Homo sapiens: one gene and its partner. The gene in region 2 interacts genetically with the main gene of each other region. Each region holds a gene or a part of one and is shown on either strand. Other genes may lie near its edges. The genes, in order: GBF1 and CHD8.

Region 1 (3,823 bases), on a different chromosome or scaffold from region 2:
CTCACAGCAGCCTCAAACTCCTGGGCGCAAGTGATCCTCCTGTCTCAGCCTCCAGAGTAGCTGGAACTACAGGCATGCACCACCATGCCCAGCTCATGTTGCCCTTTTATAACCACACCCACCTCCTCCTTCCTGCCCCCATCCCTAATCCTTAGCAATCTGTCTTCAAATTCTTTTTTTTTTTGAGATGGAGTCTTACTCTGTTGCCCAGGCTAGAGTGCAGGCAGGATCTCAGCTCACTGCAACCTCTGCTTCCCATGTTCAAGTGATTCTCCTGCCTCAGCCTCCCAAGTAGATGGGATTACAGGTGCGAGCCACCACGCCTGGCTAATTTTTGTATTTTTAGTAGAGATGGGGTTTCACCATGTTGGCCAGGCTGGTCTCGAACTCCTGACCTCAAGTGATTCACCAGCCTCAGTTTCCCAAAGTGCTGGGATTACAGGTGTGAGCCACTGCGCCCAGCCTGTCTTCAAATTCTAAAGTTCTGTCATTTCAAAAATGTTATATAAGTGGAATTATATATTACATAACCTTTTTAGATTGGCTTTTCTTTCACTCAGCATAGTTCCCTGGAGATGTCTGTTGCTTTAAATTGCTGAATAGTATTCCATGGTGTGTATGTACCACAGTTTATTCACCTATTGAAAGTCATCTGGGCCGATTCCAGTTTTTGGCTATTACAACTAAGGCTTCTATAAACATTCATGTACAGGTTTTTATGAGAAAGTAAGCTTTCACTTTTCTGGGATAAATGTCCAAGGGTGCAATTGCTGGGTTGTATGGTAATTATATGTTTCATTTTATAAGAAACTGCCAGCAGAGTAGCTGTACCATTTTACATTCCCACCCAGCAATATATGAATGACCCAGTTTCTCCACGTCCTTTCAGCATTTGGTATTGTCACTACTTTTTATTTCAGCCATTCTGAAAAGTGGGTAGTGATGTCTCATTGTGTTTTTATTTTTTGGAGTCTTGCTCTGTCACCCAGGCAGGAGTGCAGTGGCACGATCTCAGCTCACTGCAACCTCCTGCGTTCAAGCGATCCTCCCACCTCAATCTCCTCAGTAGGTGAGACTACAGGTGTGTGTGACCACGCCCAGCTAATTTTTGTATTTATTGGTAGAGACATGGTTTCACCATGTTGGCCAGGCTGGGCTCAAACTCCTGACCTCAGGTGATCCACCCACCTCAGCCTCCCAAAGTGCTGGGCTTACAGGTGTGAGCCTCATTGTGGTTTTAGTTTGCAGTACTCTGATGGTTAATGATGCTATCTTCATTTCATGTGCCTATCTGCCATCTGTATGTGTTCTTTGGTGAAACATCTGTTCCTATGTTTTGTCCATTTTCTATTAATAATTGGATTGTTTTATCACTGTTGTGTTTTGAGAGTTTTTATATTACAGATACCTTTCTTCAAATATGTGATTTGCAAATATTTCCTCCTCGTCTACAGCTTGTCTTTTCATCCTCTTCACATAGGCTCTCATAGAACAAAACTTTTAAAAATATTAATGTAGCCCAACTTATCAATTTTTCCTTTTCTAGATTGTGCTTTTAATGTCAAGTCTAAAAATTATTACTTTTTTTGAAAGAGAGTCTCCCCCGGATCTGTTCCATCCAGACAGTGTTGAGGCAAGAGACAGATCCACAGGACTGCCAAACATGCTAAAAATTCTTTGCTTAGCTCTAGATCCTGAAGATTTTCTCCTGTTTCTAAAGTTTTTATAGCTTTACATTTAAATCTATGATCCATTGGAGTTAATTTTCCTGTAAGGTATGAGGTTTAGGTCAAGGTTCATTTGGTTTTTCCTCCTATGGATTTTAATCACTCCACCACTTATTGAAAAGGCTATTCCTCCTCCACTGAATTGTTCTTACATCTTGGTCAAAAAATCCACTGAACATATTTGTGTTGAGCTTATTTCTGGTCTCTCTATTCTTTTCCATTGATCTACGTGTCTGTCCCTCCATCGACACCACATAATCTTGACTACTATAGCTATACAGTAAGTCTTTTTTTTGAGACAGAGTTTCGCTGTCCAGGCTGGAGTGCAATGGTGTGATCTTGGCTTACTACAACCTCTGCCTCCCAGGTTCAAGTGATTCTCCTGCCTCAGCCTCCTGAGTAGCTGGGATTACAGGCATGCCCCACCATGCCTGGCTAATTCTGTATTTTTAGTAGAGACGAGGTTTCTCCATGTTGGTCAGGCTGGTCTCGAACTCCCAACCTCAGGTGATTGCCTGCCTTGGCCTCACAAAGTGTTGGGATTACAGACGTGAGCCACTGTGTCCAGCCGAGAGTAAGTCTTTTTTTTTTTTTGAGATGGAGTCTCGCTGTGTTGCCCAGGCTGGAGTGCAGTGGCGCAATCTTGGCTCACTGCAACCTCCGCCTCCCAGGTTCAAGCGATTCTCCTGCCTCAGCCTCCCGAGTAGCAATCAGGCGCTCACCATCACGCCCAGCTAATTTTTCTATTTTTAGTAGAGACGGGGTTTCACCACGTTAGTCAGGCTGGTCTTGATCTCCTGACCTCGTGATCCACCCGCCTCAGCCCCCCAAAGTGGACAGTAAGTCTTAATACCAGAGTGATTCTTTTTTTTTTTTTTTGAGACAGAATCTCACTCTGTCACCCAGCTGGAGTGCAGTGGCGCGATCTCAGCTCACTGCAACCTCCGCCTTGAGTTCAAGCGATTCTCCTGCCTCAGCCTCCCAAGTAGCTAGGATTACAGGTGTGTGCCACCACACCCTGCTAATTTTTGTGTTTTTAGTAGAGATGGGGTTTCACCATGTTGGCCAGGCTGGCCTTGAACTCCTGACCTCAAGTGATCTGCCCGCTGTGGCCTCCCGCAGTGCTGAGATTACAGGCATGAACCACAGCAACCGGCCCAGAGAGAGTGATTCTTTCCACTTTATTCTTTCTAGCTATTCTAGAGCTTGTGCCTTTCCATCTAAATTTTAGAATAAGCTTACCTATGTCTACAAGAACCTTTCTGGGATTTTTATAGGAGTTATGTTGAATTTACAGATCAATTTGGGGAGAAGTGACAAAGTTACTATGTTGAGCCTTCCAATCCATGAACATAGTATGCCTCTTCATTTATTTACATCTTCTTCAATTTATTTTGTAGTTTTGTAGTTTTCATCATACAAATCTTATACATGTTTTGTCAGCTATATATTAAGTATTTCACTTTATTTGGAACCCTTGTAAATGGTATTGTATTTTAAATTTCAGTTTCCATATTGTTCATTGTTAGCATGTAGAGATATAATTACTTTTTGTGTATTGATCTCACATCCTGTGACCTTGTTGAATCCACTTATTAGTTCTATGCTTGTTGTTTTTTGTAGTTAAGCAAAGAGATCTCAAGAGGGTCATAAGCATGACAGGAAACCAGGTATAGGGCTGAGACTATTATAAGGCAGTAGCAGGCCAGTCCTACAAAGCAGATTCATAGGAGGCTGAGGTGCCAAACACAAGCTCCATGCCTGAGGCCATTCCAGGCTCACTCCCAGTACCACCCGCTAGACTGCACCAGCCCTGTGGTTGGTCACTGGACTCATGCTATGGGGCACTAAATGTACTCTCTGTCTCAGGCCATATTCATAATTGACAACTGTGGCCTTAATCCCTTGCATACCTGCCCACTCTCCAAGATGCATTCTGCTTACCTGAGCACTGATCTCTTCTCTCCGGAGAAGCCGAATGGCCAGGCGTAGCAACCCCACCACTGCCCGCTCCACAAGGAAGCAGAAATCTTGTGCCTGAACACAGAGGTGGTATAGATGGTCTCGAACAGTCTGCCACACACAGCCCACACGAT
Region 2 (3,823 bases):
AAAACTATATTAACATTTTTCTGAGAAATGACAGTCCCCTGTCCCTCAGAATCATGTCTCTGAAAAGGTGTGAAACAAAGATCTTAAAAAACATGGTAACAGAATAAACAGAACAAACTCCCTCCAAGGCAAATATTTTTTCACATTATCCCTTCTTTGATCATAGCCCCCAATTTGAAAGGCAAACCAAGAGTATCTATCAGGATGGAGATGCACTATGCACTACCTCTAATGGTAAGTTGGGGTCTTACCCATATACCAGGAGATGCTTTTCCACCCGAAAGCAGTCAGTGCGCCCATAGGCATGATGACGGTCATGTCTGCGGGAGCGTGGCCGCTCATCATCCTCACTTTCCAAATCAGAGAATTCCACCAGGTCATCATCTTTCAGAGTGCTAAAGTGGCGCGTTTGTTTTCGTACTCTAGGTGTGTCAATTACCAAATTATTCTATGAAGAGAACAGAAGGAGAAGTAATTCTCTTCCTGATTTGCTCATGGGAAAAGAATAAGACAATTAGGGATTACAATAACATTGGATGTAACGTGTAGATACTCAGAGATTTTTTTAAATGACATGTAAAATAATCTACAGAAAGCAAAATTATTCAGAAAGCAACTACTTTTCTGGGGCCTCCTAGGTAGAAAGTATCCACAACAGCCCTTGTATACAATACACCATCATAAATCACAATTAGCATCAAATAATCAGAGTAGCTGTAAAGACTCCCGAAAGTAGTGTGGTCTTCTGCGATACTTCCTCCCTAAAAGAAGAAACTCACCTTGCTGTTGAGCAGATCCATGTCTAGGTCAGCCTTTTTGGCCCACTTTTGCCAAAAGTTGGGGTCATCCAAAGAAATATCTGTCCTGTTTTCAGAAGCAACAAAGCTTGCCTAGAGAAAAACAAATGCAGAGGTAAAGCTGACTTTTTTTTTTAAGTGGTGCAAAATCAGCAATTATGTTTTAAAAACATTTTTTTTTTGAGACACAGTCTTGCTCTGTTGCCCAGGCTGGGGTACAGTGGCACGATCTCCGCTCACCGCAACCTCCACCCCCTGGGTTCAAGTGATTCTCCTGCCTCAGCCTCCCGAGTAGCTGGGACGACAGGCGCAAGCCACCATTCCTGGCTAATTTTTGTATTTTTGGTAGAGATGAGGTTTCACCATGTTGGGCAGGCTGGGTCTCGAACTCCTGACCTCAAGTGATCTGCCCGCCTCAGCCTCCCAAAGTGCTGGGAATATAGGCATGAGCCACCATCCCCAGCATAAAAACATAATTAAATCCTAGAGATTCCGGTCTCTGTGTTTTTCTAGCCTCTGGCATAGACAGAACATGCCTTAGCAAAGGTGGAACCTTTTCCTTCAGATTCAATGGTGATGGTTGTAGTTCGTCTTAACAAGATCTGGTCAATGTCCTCTTCACAAAACTTGGAGCCTTCATCATCTTCCTCCATGATGGCTGCATATGCTCCTTTTCTTAAAAGATCTTCAATCTCCTTCTTAGAGAACTGTTGGATCTGTAAAAACCAATAGAAAGATGAAAAGACTATCAAGAGAATAATATCTAACCATGCCATAATATTTTAGCTATTATATTTTAAGAAATAATAATTGAGAATCCAAACAAGGTAGTCAAATCCCTGTGTACAAATAGCTTTTGTTTCCCTCTATCACAATGATCTACTACAAACTTATCTATAAACTAAGAGGACTCACTCCAGTAATGTTGCCATCCCGACCACTCATGGATTGAAGCACAGCCTTATCCAACCCCAACTTGAGGCTGGCCTTATCAAACATCTCTCTCTCGTAGGAATTACGAGTGATGAGGCGGTACACCTTCACAGCTTTGCTCTGCCCAATTCGATGACATCGTGCCTGGGCCTGGTTTAAAATAAAAACGAAAGGAAAGGAGAAAGATATCATAAAATTAGCAAGGGAAAGGATACAAAATACCAATTTATGATTCTTTCACCTCTATAGAGCAGCCATGAGATCAACTCAAAACCAAGAGTCAATTTCAAGATGAAATTATCACCCCATCATGTAGACCAGGGGTCAGCAAACTAAAGTCTGTGTGGACATCTGTTTTTAAAAATAAAGTTCAATGGGGACACAGGTGGGACCACCCACTCATTTACATATTATCTATGGCTGTTTTTGCGCTACAGGACTTGGAGATAAGCAGTTGCAACAAAGACTCGATGGCTCACAAAGCCTAAAACATTTACTGTCTTGTCGTTTACAGAAAACGTTTGCTGATTCCCTGACCTAACTGCCACCCTTAACTAAGGAAACAATTCCAAACTCTGTGAAAGGTCTTTCTAAAAGATCCTATTCTTGTTGAAAAATCTCCCAAGTTAGGTAGTTAGTCCCTAAGACAATGAATTCCTTTACCTGCAGGTCATTTTGTGGATTCCAGTCTGAATCAAAGATGATGCAGGTATCAGCAGCTGTAAGATTAATACCAAGTCCACCAGCCCGGGTACACAGTAAGAAGACAAAGCGGTCTGAGTCAGGCTTGCTGAAGCGGTCAATGGCAGCCTGTCGAAGGTTGCCTCTAACTCGCCCATCAATACGTTCATATAAGTACCTGTATGGGAATCGCAGAAAAAAAATGTAAGTGGCTAAGCAGAAGTGGAGACCAAAACAGCAGGCTAGGATCAATACCAGTACTCCCATATCAAAGCTGGTCAAAAACCCAAGTTGAGAGTGAGAATCTTAAAAACTTCTCTTATTGCAATTGGTGAACTCTAATTAAATCCAGGCCCTCCTACTTTTTGCTGCTTTATGAGGACAGAGTAACCACAGGCTAGGATGACTCTTTTCTTACCTCCTCTGGATTAAATAATCCTCTAGGATGTCTAGGCAGCGCACCATCTGAGAGAAGATCAGAACTTTATGGCCACCAGCTTTAAGCTTTGGAAGCAACTTGTCAATAAGAACCAGTTTGCCGGCTGAACGAACCATGGCCTGCAGGTGAAAGTCATGAGGTATAATATGGCAAGCTTCACGGAATTCTGTTAGGATTTTTTCTTCAGCACCTGCCAAAAGAAAAATCAAATTATGTTGAGATCCAGTGAACCATATTAAGGTTGTAGTCTATTTAACTAAGAAAGCAAAAGGAAAAAAATGTAATTTGACTTAAGACCAACATTTCTCACACACAGAATTTCAGCACAAAAAAGTCTTAAATCGGCTGGGTACGGTGGCTCATGCCTGTAATCCCAACACTTTGGGAGGCCGAGGCAGGTGGATCACTTGAGGTCAGGAGTTCGAGACCAGTCTGGCCAACATGGTGAAACCCCGTCTCTACTAACAATACAAAAATTAGCCAGGTGTGGTGGCGGAGGCCTGTAGTTCCAGCTACTCAGGAGGCTGAGGCAGGAGAATCGCTTGAATTCGGGAGGTGGTGGTTGCAGTGAGCTGAGATTGCGCCACTGCACTCCAGCCTGGGTGACAGAGCGAGACTCCACCTTAAAAAAAAAAAAAAATCAGCCGGGTTCAGTGGTTCACGCCTGTAATCCCAGCACTTTGGGAGACCGAAGCGGGCAGATCACCTGAGGTCAGAAGTTCGAGACCAGCCTGCCCCATGTGGCGAAACCCTGTCTCTACTAAAAATACAAAAAATTAGCTGGGTGTGGTAGCAGGCGCCTGTAATCCCAGCTACTTGGGAGGCTGAGGCAGGAGAATTGCTTGAACCTGGGAGGCAGAGTTGCAGTGAGCCGAGATTGCACCACTGTACTCCAGCCTGGGCGACAATAGTGAAACTCCATCTTAAAAAAAAAAAAAAAAAAAAAACTTAAATCATCCTCAGATGTGTCATA

The links.
Region 1: changes in CHD8 (region 2) and GBF1 together harm fitness more than expected from each alone (negative genetic interaction), as found in Homo sapiens cells (one study listed by BioGRID).

The regions. Positions count from the first base shown.
Region 1 is NC_000010.11:102,370,709-102,374,531, reverse strand, and holds part of GBF1 (Golgi-specific brefeldin A-resistance guanine nucleotide exchange factor 1), read right to left. Parts: coding exon 3,672-3,823; intron 1-3,671. UniProt on the Homo sapiens protein: Guanine-nucleotide exchange factor (GEF) for members of the Arf family of small GTPases involved in trafficking in the early secretory pathway; its GEF activity initiates the coating of nascent vesicles via the localized generation of activated ARFs through replacement of GDP with GTP.
Region 2 is NC_000014.9:21,400,624-21,404,446, forward strand, and holds part of CHD8 (chromodomain-helicase-DNA-binding protein 8), read right to left. Parts: intron 3,041-3,823; coding exon 2,830-3,040; intron 2,590-2,829; coding exon 2,394-2,589; intron 1,881-2,393; coding exon 1,713-1,880; intron 1,514-1,712; coding exon 1,334-1,513; intron 891-1,333; coding exon 780-890; intron 449-779; coding exon 252-448; intron 1-251. UniProt on the Homo sapiens protein: ATP-dependent chromatin-remodeling factor, it slides nucleosomes along DNA; nucleosome sliding requires ATP. Acts as a transcription repressor by remodeling chromatin structure and recruiting histone H1 to target genes.